3 separate regions of the Homo sapiens genome follow, and all the other regions are linked to region 1. A link means that fine-mapping ties the variant in region 1 to the plasma level of a protein whose gene starts in the linked region. Region 1 holds a variant in brackets. A gene starts in each other region. All regions are shown on one strand. Distances are between the middles of the regions.

Region 1 (7,697 bases):
ACTGCCTGATGTCCTGGCTGTGGAGGGCACCTGGAGCTGCCAGCAGAGCCTCCTGCCCACCAGCTGCTGAAGCCACAGTACATCTCCTTCCTCCCACCTCCCAGACCTCTCACTGGTCTCATCTGGGCACCGAACATGGGAAGCCCCTCCTGTGACAGGCAGGGGAGAAGGAGGCTGTGCTGACAGACGGCCTGGTGAGGGAACCCGGGAGGCCTCCAGCATCTGCACCCCTCTCCTACTTTGATCTCTGTTTCACCAACATTGCACCCCAACTTAAGGTCACATAGCTACTGTCAAGCCAACAAGGTGCTGCCTCTCCCGCCGTGTGAGGGTGGAACCCCATAAGCCACCACTGGAGGCATCCAAGCATGTTGATTCCTTCTCTAGTTCAGACACCACCTCTCCTGGACATCCTGTGGCCTAAAGACTATCCTAGAATCAACACTCCTTAAATAGGAGTGGGGAAAGAAAAGGAAAATGTGTGTAATACATGTGAATCACAGATAACGTAGTCATTGGTTAATATATACAACTACGCGTATTTACATTCTGTATGCGTCAATGAGTAAAATACTGTGGTTGGTGCTTATCTGCCTTTTCCAATACTCGTTCCATGTTCTACCCTCAGCCAGTGCCTAAGCTGCTTATGGCCTTCACCTGGTGGCATGACTCGATCCTTCATTTTTAAGGCCCCAGGCCCTGCATGGCTGCCCACACAGGTGCTGTGGCCTCCGTTACCTGTACTGCACCACCAGAGAGAAGTAGGAGGCACCACTCTTCCTGGCCCCCAAGCCTCACAAAGCCTCATGCCCACCTGCCAGAGCCAGCCCTGTGTTGTCTCATGCTTCCGTGGCTGGGCCGTGTCTGAGCCACCCTCCCAGTGAGACCCGATTGTGTTCCTAAGCAAAAGCATCCCACCTGGGGACCGAACATCTCTGATGCGGCAGAGCCCAAAGCTGGGGGGATGGGAAGCACGGGTTTTGTCAGCCAAGCGTGGGGGTGGTAGTGAGAAGGGCCTTCTCCCTCCCCACGCCTTGTGTACCTGGGCCTCAAGCATAGGCCACACCTTGTTGGTCGCTGCCCCTCTATGCCGTGTCACCAGCCGGCACCACCCATCGCTGTGGACCGCGGCCCCCATCACAAGCTGGTGCCCAGGGCAGTCCCCATCTCTGTGGAGGGCTTGCCTGCCGCTGGCCTCTCTAGATAAGCTCCTCATGACTCATGCAACCTTTTCATCAACCCGGAAGGAAGCAGCCGCCGGTCGCCACTAGTGGGTGAGGAACAGTGGCTTGGAGAGGAGGGAGGACCTGGGTCTGCGGTTTCCCCCGCGGCTCAGCCCTGCTCACAACACCCTGATGAAAACCTCGGCTGCCCTTGCCTCAGGGCAGGGCACACCCTTTACCTGCTGACCTGGCCCTGGTGACAAGGGGACAAGGGCAGCAGGGCCCCGGCCAGGTTGAAGGACACCTGTGGGTCACATCAGACCTTTTTAGCCCACCAGCTCCATCTGAGAACTGGTAGCTCCCTGGTCCTCTGTCGGGGTTGGGCGCGGCCCTGTCTGAACACTGCTTCTTCCTGGAAGCTTTGCTGCCCTCCCCAGCCTGCTAAAACGCTCCATGCCCACACCCACCTCCTAGTGGGTGAAGCCAGGAACCCCTCCCTCGGGTGCATCAGGGGAAGGCTGGGGTGCAGATGCCGCGCAGCCACTTCACTGCGCTGATCACCAAAAAGCTGGAGTATGAAAACTCCTGTGGGAGAAAGCCAGGGCTGACAGTCGCGACGTCCAGGCTCCTCTGCCAGGGTTAGAGAAGTCAGAGGTGTCTGCCCAGGCCTGCATGCGGCGTAGCCTCCCGCCGCCAGGGGGCGTCAGGCCGGCGGGGGCGGGGCCTCCTCGGGCGGGGCGGGGCGGGGCGGGGCCGGCGCGAGAGGCTCCCGCGGCTCAGTTGCAGACCCCGCCCCCTCGGCTCAGCCGCGCCTCCCGCTCCATGGGGTGCAGTAGGGCAGCTCCTCACATACGTGCGCGGTGGGAGGCGCTCCCTTGGGCCCCCGGGGAGGAGGTGCCACAGCAACTCTGGACTCCTGTGTGCAGAACTGGCCGCGGAGAGGTGCCCAGGGCGAGACCCCAACCTCTGCTCCCTGAGCCCAATGCGGGGCTCTGGGTGGCAAGACCCCAAGCTCCCTGTGGTGACTTGCCCCCCGGACGGCCAGGCCCAGCTAGTGTGGCACCGCGTGTGCAGAACTGAGGTTCTTCCAGCCAGGAACATGGCCCGGTGGGCTCTGGAGAGCCCCGTAGAACTGGGGGTGCCATCGAAAACAGTCTGCCCTTGGCACTGCAGGGCCCCACCGGGCAGGGCGCTGGGGGCAGTGAGGAGGGTCCCATCTCAGCTGTCTTCCCTGTCAGCCTTGGATGCGAGGCTGATCCACACCTCTGAGTGACTGTGTAAGCCTAGGGGTTCCTGGTGAGTTTGGGATGGGTGCCCCAAGATCGTGGCCGTGTCCCTAAAGAGGGCACGTGGGGACCTGAGGTCCTACGGGAAAACTGAAATGATGCCTCAGTGCTCTGTCCCGCAAACGTGAACGCACACTCTCCCTCTCAGCCTTCCTTCCCGCCCCACGGAAGGAGGGTAGACACAGAGGGTTACACAACGAGGAGACTGAGTCCAGACACAGGAAACACTACTCAGGGCTGACGCTGAGTCGAGTGCGGTACCCGAGTCCAGCCCTGCACGGCCACACCTCAATGGAGCAGAAGAGAGAGGTGTCCTGGGTTCCTGGATAGTTCCCCAGCCCCAGAAGCCCCTTGTCCCTAGGAATTTGAATTCTTACTTGATGACAACAGCGACATCATGGTGGCCCCTGTTATTCCACAGCCTCAAAATTTAACCGCTGTGAGCTCACTAGCAGCTTCTGCCAGGCGAGCACCCCTTCCCTCGGGGCTCAGGCTCCTGGACAGGCTCAGCCTTGGGCAGCCTTCGCCAGGTCCACAGAGAATGGCGTTGGGAAGGGTGGACCTGGCGGATGGGGTGGGGACAGGCGGGCCAGACCCTCCTTCGTACCCCAGCACAGGGCTCCCAAATGAGAGGTCCCCAGCACTGCCCAGAGGAACTTCTGCGATTGTGGAAATGATTCCTGCCTGCTTTGTCCATTAGCCACTCCTCCCAGGAAGACACACACACTCACTCACTCCACCTGCCACGAAGGAACTGAACTTCTAACTGTATTTAATTCGCATCTAAATGGCCACACGTGGTTGGTGGCTGCTGTAGTTGACAGCGCTGCGTGAAGGCTCCGGCGCTTCTCGCACCGCAGGGCCCACAGCACAGACCACACCTGTAGACTTGGAGGAGTGGCAGGGGTGCCAGGAGAATCCTGCCCTGCCCGTAGCCCCGGATGAAAGGATGACATTGAGTTCGCGACGCTGCGCTCCTCGGGAACACGAACCACACCTGGAAGCAGCCTGCCCCTGTGGCCCCAAGGTTCCCGGGTCCCTTCAGCGGCTGCCCCAGGGGCCTGGCCGGCAGTGTCTGGGAGGGAGCAGCGATCCCGCCTCCTGGGATCTCCCGGGCGCCGCCCGGGGAGGAAGCGAGGGGCTGGGGGTGCTGCTCACCCGCTCCGCGCGCCTCGGCTCCCAACACAGCGCCCCGGCCCCGCGCCGCGCTCGATTCCCCGGCTCCCCGCGCCCCTGGCTCCTGGCCCTCCCCGCCCGGCGCCCCGGCCCCGCGCCCCGGCCCCGCGCACAGCGCCCCCGGCGGCGGCCGAGCGGAGCCCGAGCGGGGCGGCGCACGGCGCGGGGCCGGGCCGGGCGGCTCCCGGCGCGACTTCCTGTTGTGCCCGCGCCCCGCCGCCGCCGCCGCCCGGCGCCCCTCGCCCGCGGCCCGGCGCGGCCGCCGCCCATGGATTTCACCTAGTGCCGGCGGCCATGGCCGCGCAGTGCTGCTGCCGCCAGGCGCCCGGCGCCGAGGCCGCGCCCGTCCGCCCGCCGCCCGAGCCGCCGCCCGCCCTGGACGTGGCCTCGGCCTCCAGCGCGCAGCTCTTCCGCCTCCGCCACCTGCAGCTGGGCCTGGAGCTGCGGCCCGAGGCGCGCGAGTTGGCCGGCTGCCTGGTGCTCGAGCTGTGCGCGCTGCGGCCCGCGCCCCGCGCGCTCGTGCTCGACGCGCACCCGGCTCTGCGCCTGCACTCAGCCGCCTTCCGTCGCGCCCCCGCCGCCGCCGCCGAGACGCCCTGCGCCTTCGCCTTCTCCGCCCCCGGGCCGGGGCCCGCGCCGCCGCCCCCGCTGCCCGCCTTCCCCGAGGCGCCCGGCTCCGAGCCCGCCTGCTGTCCGCTGGCCTTCAGGGTGGACCCGTTCACCGACTACGGCTCCTCGCTCACCGTCACGCTGCCGCCCGAGCTGCAGGCGCACCAGCCCTTCCAGGTCATCCTGCGGTACACCTCGACCGACGCCCCCGCCGTGAGTCCGGGGCGGGCGCCGGGGCTGCGGGCCGGTCCGCAGGGCGCTGCTAGCGGCCTCTCGCCGCACGGCCAGGCTGAGGGACGCGAATCTGCGCCCTACAGGTGCCCCCCTCCCCCCACCCCGGTGATTCCCAGCTGTTGCCTGTGAGCCCTTAGGACCCTCGGATAGAAGCCGGAGTCCTGCGGGGACACGGGACAGCATGTCACTCCGGGAAGCCTCCCGTTCAGGTGTCTGGTCCCTGCCTGGGGACATGAGCAGCTTCTGTCACCCACCGAGGTGTACATCTGCAGGATCCTGGCACCAAGGGTTGGGCTGGAGTGTCAGCTGCGGAAGGGCCTCCATGTGACCAGTGCGTGCAGATGAGTCCAAGCCAGAGGCAGAGGAAAGGGCCATGGAGATTGTGATGCTCGGTTTGGGGCTTCCTTGGCCAGCACTGGTGGAGTGTTGAGACCAGTGGGCCCCGCGACCCCAACATAGACACACATAGGCTCTGCAGGGCTTGCACACTGGGTACCCACCACTCCAGAGACTCTGCAAGAAAGGCCAGGTGGCTGAGGCTGGCGCTGTGGCTGCAGCACCCCCTCCACCTCCACCAGTGGGGATGTGTACAGGATGGAGCAGGGCCTTTCCTGCCTACAGCATGGGGGTTCATACTGCATCCCTAGGTGGTATGGACGGCACACATGTGACACCCGACATATGCAAGACACACACAGCTGTGGAGGCGCTGGGAAGTCCAGCTGTCACTGGTCACGGCACATAAATGGACAGGGTGGTGGAGAGGTGGTCGAGAGGCTTCAGGCCACAAAGAGCCAAGGTGACATCTGGGCAGGAAGAACCCAGACCAGTGCACCCCTATGGGCTTCCTGTACATTTCCCAGGAGCCCTAAGCAGGACCTGCCACCTCACCTTTTTCCCAGAACCCCTGTGGGTGTGCAGGCCGCTGGCTAGCCGGCCCCGCCCCTGCTGTGGTATTCCAGGGCTCTGACCGGTGGCAAGTATGCCTCCCAGTATGACAGGTGAGAACTGAGGGATGGGCTTCTCCTTGGCCTTGATCCGTGTTTGGAGCCCACGTGTCTGGTCCGCCCAACACTGGCCTGCAGAGTGGCCGGACCAGGGCCCTCAGCAGGCTGCTGTGAACGGGGCCCAGTGAGCAAGGGTGGCCATTGTCTCTTGGCTTCCTATGGCCTACTGGGTGGCCCTTGGGTACTCTGGGCAGGGAGAGTGGCATAGTCCCCCAAGTCTGCGTGGTGTCAGGGTTGGCAGGCTGTGGACAGGGGGCCTAGCGTCACCTGGCCTGTGAGCCGCCCTACTTGCAGAAGGCAGAGTATTCGACTCTAACCTCAGGCATGCACCTTTGTATGTGAGCGCCATGGGGCTGGGGCCACACGTAGAGTCCCCTTCTCTTCCTGCATGTTCCAGGGACTCAGGCCCAAATCCCTAAGCCTGTCCCTGTGCCAGGGAGGATGCAGCGGAAGCTCCCTGGGAGGCCCTGCCAGTGGGCCCCAGGCCCCCAGAGGCTTTTTGGAGGTGCTGCAGATGCTTGGGCCCATTCCCGCACCCCCACCCCACCCCAGCAAGAACAGCGTTCTTCCTGCCCTGCAGCGTCTGGAGCCCTTCAGCCTTGTTCCTTTTCCACCAGCCCATCAGCACCTGTGCCCGGGTGCCCTGACGGGGATTGGTGCCCCATCTGTGGGGCAGGGCCTGTCCTGTCTGGGGGTCTGCCCCAGCCCCTCACTTCAGGGCAAGTGGGGAGCTGTGGGCCCTGCTGGTATCTGGGAAGACACCCAGGCTACTGAGGCTGTGGGGTGGACATGGGGCAGTAGGGAGAGGTGTGAGTGGGCAGAGCCTGAGAAGGGCCTCAGGAGGGTGAGGCAAGGCCACAGGAGAGGAGTAGTTGTGAGGGGGCCGTGCAGGCTGAAGGGTTGGGGAGACTCCTGCAGGGAGGTTCCTTCATACAGATTCCCAGGTCCCAGCCCCCCCCAAGGGGGAGGCTGCGTTTGTGAATGGCTCCCCAGGTGGGCCCTGAACACCCTGGCAGCCCAGGGCTCAGCAGGAATGGGAGACGCCTGTGCTACCTTGCTGCCCAGCAGGGCCAGGGCACCAACAGGAAGTTTGGAAGAGATCTGAGAATGCTGGCAGGGGTCTGGCCGGGACTGCGGGGGAGGCAGCCCTCCTGGTCTGGGATCCTCCAGGCCTCAGCTGTGGATTCCACTTGTCCAGTCTTAGAAGCATGTTGGGGGCACCTTCTACTCATGGTCATGGGAGGGCCTCTGCACGAAGAGCAATTCAGTTTGCCTTGACTATCTCATTCCGGCAGAGGGGAGGGTGGATACGACGTGCAGGGCTGACTTGGGACGAAGGTGAT[G/A]TGGCTGTGGTTGGAAGAGGGTCCCCCTCCCAGACTCTGAGCTGCCCTCACTGGAGAGGTCAGAATTCCTGGAAGGAAGATGAGACGGGTGCAGCAGGATAGTGGCAGGAGGGCCCCGGGTGTGCAGGCTTCTCAGTGGGGCTGGGGCCTGGCCTCGGCATCTAGGGGTGAGGAAAGCCTCAACAGCTTTGGTGCAGATGAGAGGTTTGCCGGGGGGGTGACCTTAGGTGGGTAGCAGCTGCTGTGAGCGCACCCATTCCACAGCACTCACCGCAGCCCCCGGCCTCCAGGCAGCGGCCCCAGCCATCCTTCCCTTGGCCGCTCCTGTCCCCTGCCAGCAGGGTCCTCTGGCCTGGCCTCCACTCCCTGCTTGCTGTCCCCTGGCTTGGAGCCTGTCTCTTGCAGGGTCCCTCCAGGCGAGGCTGCCTGGGCTCAGGGTGGCTCTGGGCCCGGGCGTGCTGCCTGCTAGTGCGTAGCCATCAGGAGGCTCTGGCTTCCCAGGTTCCACATCCCAGCCTCCTTTTCCTGACCATGACCAAATCAACTGCTGGGAATTTGGACTGAGTGTGTCCCTACTGTGCCTCAGTTTCCCTATGGAAGCTAAGATAATGCAATGATGGGCTATTCCCTTTTTTCGCCTTGGCGTTAGCTGGGAGATGCCCCTATCGGCTACCTGACACAGGGCCTCCTGCCTGGGTTGGGGTCTGGCCCTGATGACACAGTGCAGGCCACACCCTGGGTCACCTGCCCTGGATGTCTCCCTGCCCAGGCAGGCAAGTGAAGGCTAAGGGGTGGCTATTGGCCCTCGAACCCAGCAAGATAATCTGGCCATTGTCCCCTCCCAGAGCCTCCTGCCTTCTCTCAGGCTGCTGCCCAGTG
Region 2 (8,012 bases), 31 Mb before region 1:
TATCTACCATTCGACCCAGAAATTTCGCTCTTGGGTATATGACTAAAAGAAACAACAACATATCCACAAAAAATCTTATATAAAAGTTCATAACAACCTTATTACTAACAAGCAGAAACTGAAAATAACCCCAAATGTCCACTAATTAGAAAATGGATATACAAAATATGGTATATCCATACAATAAAATACTACTGAACAATAAAAAGGAATAAACTGCAGATAACTTACAAAATAAAGAATACATCTCAAAAGTAATATGTGTGCAAAAGAAGCCAGATGTAGAATAATATATATTGTCTGAATCCTTTTATAGGAATTCCAAGAATATGCAAAGTGAAGCCACAGAGAAACATAATCAAAAGTGTAGTTACCTCTATGGGTTGGGGCTGAAGGTGTAGATTGAACATTTCTGATCTGTGCTTTTAACTGAATGTAAATTATACCTCAACAAAATTTTTGAACAGAATGATACATTTATGGTCCAGAAGAAGTCAATGGTAATTTCACCACCTGTTCAATGAACTAGGCATAGAATTGGAAATGGGAGACCATACTACAAAGCTCATTTTTAAATTTTAAAGCCATTGCAATGGTCAAAACTTGTGAAACATGATAGAAATTTTGATAGATGTGCCTCTAGTCATCCATAGAGAAAAGGTCAAGAAATTAAAAACAAAACACAAAAAGCCCATTTCACACATAGAAGGTAAAAGACTTATGTGTGTCTGCTCTTCAGTGTCATACCTGCATCTTGCATCCACATCTTTTCTATGATGGGCTGCACATTGTATCAGCATTGTTTGTGTATGTATGAACCTTGCTCATTGTTTCTCTAGGGGCCACTTAATTAATGTTCATCAACTTAATAAGCAAATCCTCAGCTGAGCTATAATTTCTCATAGCTTTATAAAACTAAAGTGACCTTAGGTGGCATGTGGTTGAGTCTCCTCATTTGCTAATAAAAATATTGAGGTTCAAAATGGTAGAGAGATGTACCCAAGGTCACACAAGCAGGGAACAGCAAATATGGGCCCTCAGATCTGACTTGAAGTCTGGTGCTCTTAACACTATGCAGTACAACCTCCTCAAAGGCTCACCTACTCCTTGACTCTCTGGGGAGAAGGTTTCATTACTTCCTATATACCAGTAGACCTTTCTCTAATCAGTAGAAATACATTTATTCTGATGGTTTTCTGACTGAGAAACTATCAGAAGTCCTGTCCCTGAGAAAAGGGTATGGTTGTTTATGTACGTAATCCTCCGGGCCAAATAAATACAAATCAAGAATTTAGCCTGAAGACAAGACAAGTAATTGTGGAAATCAATATTGGCAGGCTCTTTCTATCTGTGGTTTACTTTTTGGAGTCCAGCACTGTATTAGTCAAGGCTTCTTCAGTTGAAAATGACAGGAATCCAACTACAGCAAGCTTAGAAAAGAAACAAAAATCTATTGGCTTGAAAAATGGCATTTCTACCTTGAGACGTAGCAGGATCCATGGAGTCTTTCAAGTGTTCTTTCTCCATCTCTCAGCATTGCTTTTCTGCATGGAAGGAAATACAGTCACTGACAACTCTATACCTATACCATCCGATTCACTATTGTTCATATGACACATCTCATGGAAAAAAGCCTGATTGGAAATATTTGGGACATATGACCACCCTGTATCAATCACTATACATTAGGAGAACAGGTTCTACTATAGAGTTAGCCAGGGTCACATGTCCACCTCTGAGAAAGAGAAGAGAGGCACACATTTTACTAGCATATGGGGAATCATATGAAAAGGATCATTACTCTAAGGAAGGGATGCTTTGCTGAGGGAAAAAAAAAAGTTCACTTCAACACAAAGATCCCTCCTTAAACCAGAAGCCTAAACATATGGAGTCCCCTCCTAAAGTTGTTTGACATCCCAGGGCACTGACTCCTGCAAACTGTATTTCTTAGGCTGCTTTGTCAACTGACTTTCTTCTAGGTTCACCCAATGACAGGGTTTTGAAATACAGGTTAAAGGAGGGCCACAATATTTCTTTTCACTCTCAGCTTTTGGAGGACCCTCCAGCATTATCTGTCTCCCAGTAAGCATCTCCACTGTGGTCTCAGTTCCTTTAATGTAGCTTGTGCTCCTCATTCCTGGTAAAGCCTCCTCTCTAGCACTCCCCAGCCTGAGAGTGGTAGTACTTTCCTGCTAGTAACTATCATCGTGTTGCCTCATCATCCCCTAGTTGGCTTTTTAGTCATTTGAATCCTTTGTAATTTGTTCCCCATATTAAATTCTCTCTATTGAATTACAACATATAGATGCTATTTTTCTGAAAGAACTCTAAGATGTGTGTCGAGAGGAGGCAATCTCCCATATAAGGACCAGGTTCCCCAAAGAGAAAAGCCATTAGAGTTTGGCTGCCTCAGCTAATCTTAAAGTGGAGGAAAAAACAAACAAACAAACAAACAAACAAAAACAAAAAGTGCTGAGGAACACTGTACTTTAAACTATCAGAGAAATAATGTCTTTTTTATTGCTGTTTTTTAGAGACAGGGTCTCACTCTGTCACCCAGGCTGGAGTGCAGTGGTGTAATCATAACTCACTGCACCCTCAAACTTCTGGCTTCAAGCGATACTCCCTCCTGAGCTGCTGGGATTACAGGTGTGAGCCACCGCTCCTGGCCCTGGAAAATTACTCTCATTGAGCACCTGCGCCTGCATGCCTGGTCATGAATGTCAGCTGCTAACACTCTGGTAGCATGCCTACTCCTTCCTCCCATCCACATACTGTCTATGATTTCCTAGTCTCCTAAGACCTCCTTCTCAGTAAGGCCATCTTCCGAGGAGGAGCATCAACTCCTCCAACCTCCCAGCTCCTGGGTGTGCCTTGATACTTCCAAACTCACTGCAAGCGTCACTGGCACATGGTATGAAGCAGAGCGGGGGAGGCAGGACACAGAGCACTGGGTGTGACTGGGGAGGGCAGGCTTTCACAGCTTCCTCTGTGATGGTTTCTAATCCTTGCAGGCTCCCACCATTGGGTCTCTTTCCATCTGAAAATGGAGGAAATTAGACCAGCTGCCTAAAACATCAACTCTAATGTTCTAGGTTCTAAGATTCTGTGGTTAATTTAAGTGACAGAACCACATTATGGCTGCTGTTTCATCAGCACTGTGAAGACTGTACAAGCCACACCTCAGTATGTTGGCTGACCTTAAAAACACCTTGTCAGTACTTGATATAGACACTCGAAGTAATTCTAAGTTGCATCTTACTTTTCTTACTTACAATAAAATGCTGCTCTCTGATTATGAAGATTCATACTCCTTAGTACGAATGGTAAAGAATCATTTGTTTTCTCAGGTGGTCATTTCACTTTCAAAAGCATTTAAGAGGCAATTTTTTTAAGGGTGATATTTCAAGGTCAACACTTTCCGTGCTTTCTAATTCATTGTATTTGTATCATTCTTCAAAGATCCTTCATATTCATTATCTTTTTAAGCATAAGAGAATTGGGCTGTCATTTTTAGTTCTCATATGACACATGAATACACTGAGAGTTAGATTAAGTGAACTGTCTCTAGAGCATACGTCTGGCTATCTAGAATGTAATAACTATAAAGGGAGGGGATCTTTCTTATTAGGGTTGTGGGAAAGGTCTGTCACTGATGTTTCTAATGCTTAGAAGAGTGCCTGACACATAGTAGGTGTCAATAAACATTCGTTGACTCAATAAATGAATGAATCTAATTCGTGACAGAGCTGGGTCTAGAATTCTCTACTCCCTCAGCCATTGCTCCTTTAGTGCTGACAAGAGTTGTTCTATGTTCTCAAGCGCCCCACATTCCTTTGTCTTTTCTGGATGCACCTGTGGTTGGGTTTGTGAGGCGAGGCCAGTGAGCTTTCCTGGTGAGGTGCCACTGGCAACCCCGCCTCATAGCGACACAGGGGAGGGAAGCAGGGGGTCTGCGGAGGTTGCTCCCGAGAGACTAAAGCTGTTGCCCCCGATTTTCCAAGGACGCCAGTGAGGAAGGCCCGCCTGTCCCGCCGCCCGGGCACTGGCCTCACTTTGTCGCGGGAGGGGACCAGGGCTCTGGAGAAGGCCCGGGCCAGCGGCTGGGCGGGGCTCTCCGAGGCTCCCACCTCGCGGTCCCCGCCTGGCGGCCGGCGGCTGCGGCAGAAGGCGAAGCGGTCGTGCTCCCCCTCCCGGACACTGCGGCGGTGGCAGCGCCAGCCCCGCCGCGGCCGCCCACGGGCTCGCGGAGTCTGGCGGGACCTGCGCGGGGCGGGACCTGCGCGGGGCGGGGAGGAGGGGCCGAGGCGGAGCTGCTGCGCTGGGAGCCGGCTGGGGGCGCCGCTCTCAGTCTGGGGCGGGCGCTCGGGCTGCGCGGGCTCTGGGCAGCAGCAGCAGCAGCAGCAGCATCCTCTCTTCCTTTACTTCCCTTCCGCTTCTTTCTCTTCCTTCTCCTTCTTTTTCCCCCCCCTCCCCTTCTTCCCCTAACCCTTCTACCCCTCTCCTTTTTCTCCGGAGGGCGCTAAGTCCGTGAGCGGTGGCAGTCGCGACCGCGGGTGCATCCAGTTTCTGCGCCCAGGTAAGAGACCGTCCCCACCTCTGGCTCTATGTAGGGCGCCTCTCCTTTTGCCTCGGTCTCTGAGTAGAAAGAGATAGGAATGGGGAGGGGTTGTGTCTCGTCCTCTGGGACTCGCAGCAGGCAGTCTGGTAGTTGGTCGAGTGGCCAGCCGTGCACCTGGCGGAAGATTCGGGCCTGTCCTCTCCAGGTGTCACTGCGGAGCAGGGGGCCGGACGCTACTGGTACCTGAGCCCTGGCTTCGTAGAAGAGCGAGTGAGCTTGTTAGGTACCACTTTGAAACAACTGAAAACTTACGCCAGGTTAGAATACGTGTATCGAAAGCCAGTATTACCTGCGCTGTGGAAAGAAGGGGAGTGGATTCTACAAAGATAGTGGAAAATAGGAAATCGAGGTAGGGGATTTTTTTGTTCATCCAGCTGCAGAGAACTGCACACTGGGAAGTGAGTGAGTGAGGGAAGCCTTGTCCATTTCAAATCATGTTTCTCTGTAATTCCTTCAGAAACAGCTGGGAGAGGAGGACTGATATTTATAATTGTAGGAAAATGAAAAATAAATGCCTGGTGGTGTTGGAGGGCGGGGCACGAAGAAATGAGTCTGGTTAGGCTTCCACACAGTCGTTTTTCTTTTTAAACGTTGGGGGTGGACCTCTGAATCTACAGTGCATCTATTCTTTTCTTCCTTTTCTTTTTAAAAGGCTTTTTTGGTGGGGAGAGGAGGACTGCAGTGCTGGCTGCCTGCCTTCCCCCACCTCGTCTTTTGTTTAAGGATGGAAATTTCAAGAAAGAGTGTGTGGGGGGCTAGGAGTGGGGAGCTGTATATTTGGGTGTGTATAGGGGGAGGGGTATGGATGGAGTCAGAAAAAAAATCCTTGAAAACTGGAAATTAATGTTATTCTGCCTGGCATCCGGACTTCAGGATTTTTGTCAGAAAATAAAAAGCTTTCATTAGCAACAAGCCCGTTTGTGACAATTGCTGTGTGCCATCTGTCGTAAGCTCTTAGCACAATGCTTCCAGGACATAGACGCTTTAAAATTGAGTCCGGTGTAAAGGGTTTTTGTTTAAATGCCTAAACACACAAGTATGCACACAAATGTATAATACACTATATACATGTTACAAAAGGAAATAGGTACTTAAGAGACTGATTTTTTAAAATTGTATTTGAGGGTTTGGAAATTATGTTGTGAATAAAATCTGTAGTGCAAAACAAAAAAATATTGTTGGGTGGTATATAATTTTGGGTGTGAGGCAAAGGGATTGATGACTGTTGGTAAGGAACTAATTTAAATGTTAAAGGTATAATTTATTTTAAAATGATCAGTCTAGAAAAGGAAATGATTGCAAACTGAAATTGAGGTTTGCAGCCACAGTGAGGCGATGGAGAACAAAGCCTTCTATGTGAGCCACATTATGCAAAATGTCCCATGCATGAGCTGCAGGTACCAGCCCAGTTCAAAAGCATAGTTCTTTCACTATGTCATTTCACTGTGGACAATTATGATTTTTTTTGGCAGTCAAATAGATTGAATAAATAGAAGCCCTTTAGAATGCTTTTAATTTTATGCCCAGGGAAAAGATTACAGCCTTCCATCAGAATATAACACAAAGCAGCCCTTTAACCGGGCAATAGGTGTATTTTGGTAGAAATCCTTGTGAATTTGCAAATCATGGATGTTCCAAAAGCCCCAGCCCCATGCACACAAAGAACCCTTCCTTCAAGAAAAAAGGCATTTTTCTCATTCAGTAAGGATTATTATATTTGTGTGTGTATGTTTATGTTGATTTCCTGGTAATTTCATCTGATTATCATAGGTGTACATCTGCATTCATGATTTGTATATTATCAGAGCCATTGTGGCTTTAGGATCAGTGGTACATGCTGTTTATCTGTGGTTTATTTAATTTTAATTTTTCATATTTTACAGTTTGCTACAATATTATTTAATGTCCAAAGTTTTCTTTTTTAAAACCATAAGTAGAAAATTGCTTAACACACATCTGAAGATCTAAGTAATTTAAAAATAGAGCTACCTTTTATAAAATAATATTTTAGTTATATTAATTTTTATTTTATTTATCTCCTCTCTTATTTTTTTCCCTTTTCTAATCAAATAACCTGTTTCTTTATGGCTGCTTTAGTCTTCTATACTGCCATAGGAGGGCCAGTGTTTTCAAGAATTTTGAATTTAGGATTGTTCATTCTCTGCAGCACCTCTCAGGATGACTTGTTTACAGCACCTTCTCAGGGAGGAGACAGGGAAAGAATGTGCTGAAAGAGCATGACCCAGTGAAACTGGCACAGCCATTACCTCATCCTAGTAGGTACTTCAGATTCATTGAGAGAGCAGGCATCCTCTCAGTGGAAACCAAACACCAGGAGCACACCCATCTCAGGGCAAAAGCCTTTCTCTTCCCATAGCAGCCTTTACTAATGTCATTCCACTGAGGTTAAAGGGATATTTTCTCTTTTATGTATTCCTTTTCAGGGATCTTGAACTTGGTTAGAAATATGTAGCCAGAAATGAAACTTGGCACAGAATCCTCTAAGCCTGAAGGAATAATTTCATTCCTTTACCCCTTTTGGTTTAAACCAGTTCGCAAATTTTCTAAACATCAGAAGGGAAAAGGAAGAAAAATGTTGGTGTATTTTTGTGTATTTTCTTATCACACACACATATTTTGTATTGAATTTTACTAGCAGTTAGACAACAGACTGGACATGCTATTAACAAATGTAGTTGCACTGTTGGCATTTTAAAAAATCATTATTACATTTGCTTATAGGACAATAGGTGCATCCTTCAGTGATTCATTGATGTCCTTTTGAGACTGACCATATGAAACTGACATGGGGATTTTAGTATTCAAGTTGGTAACTCTGATTATTGAATCCTTTCAATACTTAATTTCCTCTTAACAGATTAAGATAAAGAATCTGAAATAATAGTTACAGTAGAAGATAGCACCACCCCCAGATCAATACTATCCTCCTTAATGCTAAAAGTAGTCACTTTAGGTAAGTCATTAGTAAATGCATGAACCTGAAGATAACAGTTTTGAAACAATCTCAAATTTTTTTGTCTCTGTTATAGATTAGTTAAAGATGCTAATAAACTCTTTGAGTCATATCTGATTCTCTCAGATATATCAAGTGTTTTTGCTACTTTAATTATCTCTTTACTATTGCCATTACCTTTATCTACTCAATCTAGACCTTTTCATGTAAGGACTGTATTTTGATCATTTCACCATATTTTCCCTCCCTTCACATCATTCTTTTTAATTCGACATTTGGATGTTAGACTTACTGTTCTCTAGCTATTTTGGTTTCAGTAATGTTACTCTCTTGATACAAATTTGGCCTTTATTTTTCATTAAGGAGAGCACTTATTACCATTTATGTATTTATTTATTCATTATGAGAAACAACTTT
Region 3 (7,699 bases), 100 Mb before region 1:
ACAGGGTTATGACATCTACTTGGATTATTAATGTCATTTAAGCTTTTCAGAATTATACCTTCAGATTTATGCCAACCTTACTTAAAATTTCATTTAGAGCTTTCCTGGAATTAGAAAGCAAAAAAGCTTTATTTACTGTCACATAGCTACTAACCTGGTTTTTCTTGTGATTGTATCATTGAAGATATTCCATATCTCTCTTTAGCATAATCCTACAAAAAAAGTTTTTTGCATCGTGACTTTTTATGTAAACACTAAGAGCACAGTAAACACATAAATACTAATAATAGAATATAAAAATGAATTTAACTTTCAGGATCATTTTATTAATTCAGAAAGTCAGTAGTTTCATAATGTGGAAATCTCTCATTCATTTACATATGTACTCTACAGAAAACAGAAAAGTACTGTTTCTGGTTAGTTTGTTTTGAAGATCACCACTCCTAGATGGATTTACCATACTTAATAACATTCTCAGATAAAATTTACACATATGTACAACACATCTTAACTACCTTCTTCAAAAAGATGAAACTACTTCAAAGCAGGGACATAAATTTCCTCTGTGAAGGGAGTAGGATGAAGTACCACAGTTTTATTAACTTCCTATTACAGGAAGAAATGTTCAAAGAGAACCAACGTTTTGGGTAAGCTTTCTGAGCACCAGATGTCCACAGTTTTTAGAAACTGGAGATGCTGGGTATAAGCTAACTACAACTTTCCTTTTGTAAAACATCATCAAAAAATTCACCAGCTTCCTGTTTCTAAAAACCAGATTCAGGATACCAGGTTACAGGAGTTTGACACTGACAATATAATAATATCAAATTTCTTGTTACAGATTAGAGTTAGGAACAGGAAACAGAAGACCTAGGGTCCAATCTGTTAACAAAATATACTTATTAAATAGATAAGTGGCCTTTATTTCAATCTTACTTTACCTCTAAAATGATCTAAGATTCTTCTAGCTATAAAATGGCATAACTCTGCCACAATGTCTACCTTGTATCTAGACCTATACTATCTGTAAGGGTACACTGATAGTTTATGTAATTAAGCAGATTAAGAGTACACAAAAATAATTGCCCTAGTTTTTACAAGGTAACTTAAGATCTGTATGAAACAATTAAGTTTCTGTCACTTTACAGCTACCTGTTGGAATCCTCTCCTTTAGAGCAGGAGGGTGCTGGATTTTGTGTTTACACCAAAATAAAACCAGACATGTTTAAGGCGCTTACTGAACAATTTAAAGAAAAAGATAACCCTGGCCAGAGTAGAGAGATACAGTCACACAATGAAGCCTGAGGGCAACAGAAGGAGATTAAATTGTGTGAAGGACAAAAAAGTTGCATTCATAATTAGTACTATTAATATTTCAGTGACTCTTCCTCATTTAGTATTCTAAGATGACCTTACTTCTCATGTTGCTTACCACAAACTCAGAACTCCTTATAGAAAAATTAGGGAGCCAGACGGAAATTAAGGCTTAACAGTACTACAGCACACATAACTTGTAGGATGGTTTCAAACTTTGATTTCTGAAAAGCACCGAAGGATCACTGGGTGTTATGAATTATCCACGTGATTTGGGGTCACTTCACCTCAAATGCATTCTCGGTAACTCCTATTACCTACCTTACCGGGTCACTGAGAGGGAGAAAGTAAATAAAAATGACATGTGTTCTTTAAAGCTGTCACATGGGAAATGGTCATTAAACATATTGGCAGATGGTTTTGCTAAGTACTGTCATTACTTGCTAAAGCATTAGGAACACGAGGGCTGAGTACATATCGATTACTAGTGCTTATTAAAATTTTCCCAGGGATTGTGCATTACGTGCAGGACGTGCCTAACCCAGAGAGACTCAAGTGTGACGCCGCGCTCCTACTTCCGGGGCGGCTGGTTCTTCCCGTCCTCCCCACCCCGGGGACACGCTTCTAGTAGGCCAAACTCCCAGGTGACCCCCGCAAGAAACGCGGTCCGGAGAGGGTCTGGCCCCACTGCTGGGGCAAGGGCTCTAGGCGCCCGGACCCCACGCCCGCAGCCTGCGGAGAACGTGCCGACAAGGACCTGTAGGGCCCCACTCCCCCTCCTCCCTCCCTCGGCGCAGCCCGGCCCAGGGGTCTGTCCTCCCAGGCCCAGGAAAGGAGGAAACCCACTTCCGCCGCGTCCATGATCTCCCGCGGCTTCTCCTGACTCTTGCGGCTGGCGCTGGCGCTGGGCATCGGGACACGGAACTGGGCAGTGGACACCACCCTCCCTCGCAGGCTTCCGTAAGGCAGGCCAAAGGGGCTTCTCCCTCCCTCCCAGTCTCCGCCCTCCCGACCCTGGGGTCTCAGCACACGCGCTCGGACTCCGCGTGGAGGTGCGGCTCCAGAAAGATCGCGAGAGCTGCGGCTATCTCGAGATCCCGGAGCGCTGGCGGCCGCGCGCAGGGTCTCCTCCCACTCTTGCCCCGCCCCTCCGGGAGTTTTCCCGGAGTTGGAGGGAATTCCCGGGAATTCGCGGTAGTTTCGCTGGATTGGCTCTGGGGGCGGGGGCAGGGGTTACCAGGTGGCTGGCTGTAGACCTGGGCGAATGCCAGCTCTCTTCAGCTTCGTCCCAACTGCGACTTCTGCTCCATTCTTCTAACAGCCCTTTCAACTCCGCTCGGCTGTAACCGCAGACTCGTCACTAAAACACCCACCTAAGCGCGGGCCTTGGTTTCTCCTCTCTTGGACTTTCCCGCCTTCTCTCTTCCCCTGGGCGACGTAGCTGCTTGGGGACGGAGGAGGCCTCTTCGCAATCCATTGCCCTGCTTGTTGGGACAGAGGAGTGCAGTTGGCTTGCCAAGGCAGCATGGGTTACCAGTCCCTGTGTAAGTGAGGTGTAAATACAGTGGCAACGACAACAAGAAACGCATACAATTGCATTGATTGCCTGGATCTGTTGCAGTGTTAGGGACAGTGCATAGTGTTGGTTGCCCAATGGGCGAATATCCCCAAGTTAGGCTTTTTTAAAAAACTGATTTTTTAAAAAAGCTATCATTCATGAGTTTTGAATCGAAATTGAAAATAATTTGGAGATTTGGTTTAATACTGTTTCCCCTGCCAGAGTTTGCACTCCGTCGTTTCAACTGACTTGGTAGTGTCTTAGTCTGGCACAAAGTGTTAAGGGGTGCACATAGATCCCAGCGCAAGTGAAAGGCTCTCTCTGGAGGCTCCCCCATGGAGTAGTGAGAAGACAGCCATGGTCCTTGCTTGCCTGTAGCTTTCCTTCTAATTGCAGGTGGTATGAAATTTTATTCCCTATTTAATTGATCAAAGATTATTTACAAACATCTACTTTGTGCCAGGCATTCTATCAGGTGCTGGCAATAAAAAGATAAGTCCTAGTTCCTGTTCTTAATATTACACAGGTACCTAGGCTGATAGATGCGCCATCTTGATACATGCTTCCATTATTACAGAGTCAGGAAGAGAATTTAGCTCTTAAAATGGCTGCCTGGAAGTGACACATTTCACATTCTCCTAGTTTATTGGCGAGAACAAGTCACATCGTCATTCCTGAGTTCATGGGGGCAGGAGAATTTACTCATTCCTTGGGGAGCAACACTGAATATTCATGATCAGTATCACATTCCGTTAAAAAAGGCATCCCATTATACTCATGGGATTCGAATACAGAAGGGGGTCTGTGAAGTTGCTTCATCTTGGAATTTTTTTTAAAACTTGGATTGCCTCAATCAGGTATAGTCCTAATGTATGGACTGGTTATCAGAAATCTGAATACAAATCCCATCTATTATCCCTTTGCTAGGGTAGCGATCTTACCTTTCCATCTGTCCATGAGGCCTGTCCATGTACTTCTTTCTTACTTTGGCCCCGTTGCCTTGATAAAAGTATTCTTATTTAGTCCTGGAATAAGACTGTAAATATATATTCTTGTTTCTGGCCTCCTTTCCTGATAGTGATAGAAAAGAAGCATTTGCCAGATCAGTGGCCACATGTCATATGCCTGAGGTCTTAAGAATCTGCTGTAGTAAAGATACCACAGCTGCAACTGAGGCTGTGACTTGGTTGAACTTGCAGTAGTCTACTGTCAAGTTCCTGAATTTGTCTGGTTTTTGCTGGAGCCACACCGGTGACAATAGGAATGTGATGGAGACTACCAACCATTACGTCTTTAAGGGTTGCACTGATCTCCACTATTCCCCTTGGGGACATGTTATTGTTTATGATTTCCTATCCTAGTTGGGGGCTGGGAAAGTGACTTTTAGAGATTTCCTCTTAGCTTTATCCGGTATGGTAGCCTATTCCACAGACCAAAGAATAGGGGAACAGCTCTGCTATGGTGCTCTGGCTGCTTTGCAGGATCCACATAAGCCATGTAGGCAAGGGCGGGAACTGCAGCTAACCTGAATCTTGGAAAAACATCTTGTGATCCTGCTGGAACATGAGAGGGTGGAAGGCCATCTCCCACTCACTTCCCTGTCTCCCTGAGAGGCTGTTATGGGATGGTTTCTTACTACCTCCTAGATTCTGATGAGGTGTGGGACTTCTTGCCCCCTTCCCTCAAGGGAAATGCAGAATACAAAAATGTATATAATATCTTACTGCTTAACTGGAGTCTAGAAGTGGCTGTTAAGCAACAGAGTGTCCCACTACTCATGTTGCAGTCATTTGGTGCCTTTTGTTTCAGTGATGTCCTTAATGGGACAAGAATCACAGGGAGCTGGCAACTTTGGCTTATTCTTCTTTCTCTCTCTCTTTTTTTTAATTTAATTTTTTTTTTTTTTGAGACAGAGTGTCCCTTTGTCTCCCAGGCTGGTGTGAAGTGTCATGATCTTGGCTCACTGCAACCTCCACCTCCCAAGTTCAAGTGATTCTCCTGCCTCAGCCTCCCGAGTAGCTGGGATTACAGGTGCCCGCCACCATGCCTGGCTAATTTTTGTATTTTTAGTAGGCATGGTTTCACCATGTTGGCCAGGCTGGTCTCAAACTCCTGACCTCAGGTGATCCGCCTGCCTTAGCCTCTCAAAGTGCTGGGATTACAGTAGTGAACCACCGCACCTGGCCTTTTTTTTTTTTTTTTTTTGAGGCAGGGTCCCACTCCGTTGCCCAGGTTGGAATGCAGTGGTGCGATCAAGGCTCATTGCAGCCCCGACCTCCCGGGCTCAAGGGGTCCTCCCACCTCAGCCTTTGGAGTAGCTGAGACTACGGGTGTGCACCACCATGCTCAGCTAATTTTTGTATTTTTTGTAGAGATGGGGATTCACCATGTTGTCCAGGCTGGGGGCTTATTCTTGTTTTCACTGTCTATGTAAGTAATAAACCATCTAAATCTAAAAGCAGCATGTTACAGCTTTACTGATGGAATCATTCAGGCCTTGACATTTCCTTACTTGTCCTGTGTGTTCCTGTCTTGACAGGAATCAGCGTCGGACTCTGCCAATTTCCAATACAATATCCATCCCAAACTATACATTTAGGGAGCTGGAAAATGACTTTTGGGTAGGTCCATGGACCTAGTTGTTGCTGTTAAGAGGGTTGAAGTGCCATTGTGGTTCTTTTATTTCTTTATTTTTTTCAAGACTGGGTTATGAGACTAGCTAATTTTTTTGTTTTTTAGTAGACATGGGGTTTCCCATGTTGCCCAGGCTGATCTCGAACTCTGGGTCTCAAGTGATCCATCCGCCTAGGCTTCCCAAAATGCTGGGATTACAGGTGTGAGCCATTGCGCCCAGCCACCACTTTGATTCTTGGTCCTTTGTATGTGGTTCTTTTCCCCCTGGAAAAGAAAGAAGCTCACAGGACATCTGCTAAGTAGACTACATGGGTCCTTCTTTGTTCCTAATGCTCAGGAATTTCATAATATTTATCAGCCTGGGGGTTTAAATTTATCATTGTGCTGGACATTGGGCCATTCCATCTGGAAGCTCGTTAGTTCTGGGGCATTTTCTTGAAAAAAGTCTTTGATGATTCTCTACCTTCCATTTCTTCTCTTCTCTGTTTCCTGAATTCTTATTAAGTATTGGACTTCCTGAGCTGGTCTAATTTCCTTATAATTTCTCTCCATTTTTCCATCTTACTGCATTTTGATATGCTTTTGGGAGATTTTTTCAACTTTATCATATAGTCTTTCAATTGCGTTTTTCCCATTATTGCCATCATTTAATAATTTCCTAAAGCACTCTTTTTGTTATTTGAATGGTCCTTTAAAAGAATAGAATCCTGATCTTTTAAAATGTATATAATATCTTCTCATCTTACTGAGCATATTAATAAAGTGATTTTTTGGGGAATTTTTAAAAGCGTTCTCTCTACATAACCCCTTTCTTACAAGTTGCTTTTCTATTTGTTTATTTTTGGCCTCTGTCTTCCATGTTAGAGACCTACCTCAGGTGTTCAGTGAATCCTTGATTGTCTGCTTATGTTAAAAGTGGGGACTAGGCCCGGTGCGGTGGCTCACGCCTGTAATCCCAGCACTTTGGGAGGCCGAGACGGGCAGATTATGAGGTCAAGAGATCGAGACCATCCTGACTAACACTGTGAAACCCCGTCTCTACTAAAAATACAAAAAATTAGCCAGGCGTGGTGGCAGGCGCCTGTAGTCCCAGCTACTTGGGAGGCTGAGACAGGAGAATGGCGTGAACCCGGGAGGTGGAGCTTGCAGTGAGCCGAGATTGCGCCACTGCACTCCAACCTGGGTGACAGAGCGAGACTCTGTCTCAAAAAAAAAAAAAAAAAAAGGGGAGACTAAAAAGCTGATTAGAAGCTCTCTGAGCACTTCCATGGGGTTTGTCCATTGTGGATTTTACTGCATGATGGTCTGGGTGGGCCATTTGATGGGTGTCAGTATTTTTAGATCTTTCCCTTTGGCTAGTCAGATTGTTCAGGGAGAAAGCTCTTCTGATCTGCTGCATGAAGAATAAAGGTCTCACTGCTAGTGTTCTGGGAATATCTGGCATCCCACATGTATTTGGTCACCGAATTCCCCTAGTTGGGTACAGTACCCAGTTCCTGAAGTCAAAGACCCACCTTTTACCTTCTCTACAGAATCCATCATGTCAGGGTAGGAGAGGACTCTTGCCAAAAGAGTAGAGTATGGAGGGCTGCAGGAATCAGACTTCTCTTGTAACTTTCCCCAAATTGTCATTATCATTCCCACTCCCCATCTCCGTTTCCAGAGGTATTTGGTGCTGCTTGTCTTGAGTCTTTTGTGATTTCTGTGGTATGAGTGAGGTCACTTCTCAGCTTTCTTGACTGCTCCCTTAGGATTCAGCTTTTCATATCTGCTAAGTAGGTTACCACTGGCCCACCTGCTGCTTTTTGGCTTCCTGCATTTTTGGGGGGATTGTCTCCTCTCCTGTTCTCCCATCCTCTCGATTATAGTTTTTGTGGCATTAAGGGCAGGAGCAAGATTAGATCTGCCATCTTAGTGCAGAAGTCACTTTTCATGTTTTATAACCTCAGTGTATACAAAGTTTCTGGTTGATGACTGTAGTTACCAAAATTTATACCAATGCTTATACTTTTTTTTTTCTTTTTCTTTTTTTTGAGACAGAGTCTCACTGTGTCTCAGCTGGAGTGGAGTGCAGTGGCACGATCTTGGCTCACTGCAGCCTCCGTCTCCTGGGTTCAAGAGATTCTCCTGCCTCAGCCTCCCAAGTAGCTGGGATTATAGATGAGCACCAGTATGCCCAGCTAAGTTTTGTAT

Direction of the effects. Positions count from the first base shown, and alleles are read on the strand shown. Strength reflects both the effect of a copy and how common the allele is.
For the plasma level of the protein whose gene starts at base 4,350 in region 2, allele G in region 1 goes with a lower level than allele A (weak association).
For the plasma level of the protein whose gene starts at base 2,384 in region 3, A is the low allele of the variant in region 1 and G is the other (weak association).

Evidence for each region. PIP is the posterior inclusion probability: the model's chance that the variant is causal. The UK Biobank Pharma Proteomics Project read protein levels with antibody pairs (Olink). The fine-mapping took linkage between variants from a reference panel, not from the people measured, so its PIPs are less certain.
Region 2: it holds the start of MAP2, and the variant in region 1 is fine-mapped to the plasma level of the MAP2 protein (UK Biobank, PIP above 0.99).
Region 3: it holds the start of DARS1, and the variant in region 1 is fine-mapped to the plasma level of the DARS1 protein (UK Biobank, PIP above 0.99).

What each region holds. Positions count from the first base shown.
Region 1 is chr2:240,564,668-240,572,364 of GRCh38, forward strand. It overlaps RNPEPL1 (arginyl aminopeptidase like 1), which reads left to right and starts at 3,817. Exons shown (of 11, transcript NM_018226.6): 1 at 3,817-4,447. The coding sequence starts at 3,920. DUSP28 (dual specificity phosphatase 28) reads left to right here. Exons shown (of 2, transcript NM_001370465.2): 2 at 1-589. RefSeq lists enhancers at 1-103, 234-313, 4,264-4,902, 4,774-4,953, 4,903-5,541 and silencers at 1,784-2,023, 3,534-3,793, 3,824-3,883, 4,024-4,213, 4,454-4,503. The variant G/A (reference allele first, on the strand shown) is at 6,819.
Region 2 is chr2:209,419,698-209,427,709 of GRCh38, forward strand. MAP2 (microtubule associated protein 2) reads left to right here and starts at 4,350. Exons shown (of 16, transcript NM_001375505.1): 1 at 4,350-4,579. RefSeq lists a silencer at 4,031-4,420.
Region 3 is chr2:135,983,243-135,990,941 of GRCh38, forward strand. DARS1 (aspartyl-tRNA synthetase 1) reads right to left here and starts at 2,384. Exons shown (of 16, transcript NM_001349.4): 1 at 2,161-2,384; 2 at 155-212. The coding sequence starts at 2,226. It overlaps DARS1-AS1 (DARS1 antisense RNA 1), which reads left to right and starts at 1,934. Exons shown (of 4, transcript NR_110199.1): 1 at 1,934-2,274. RefSeq lists a silencer at 2,021-2,080 and an enhancer at 2,131-2,230.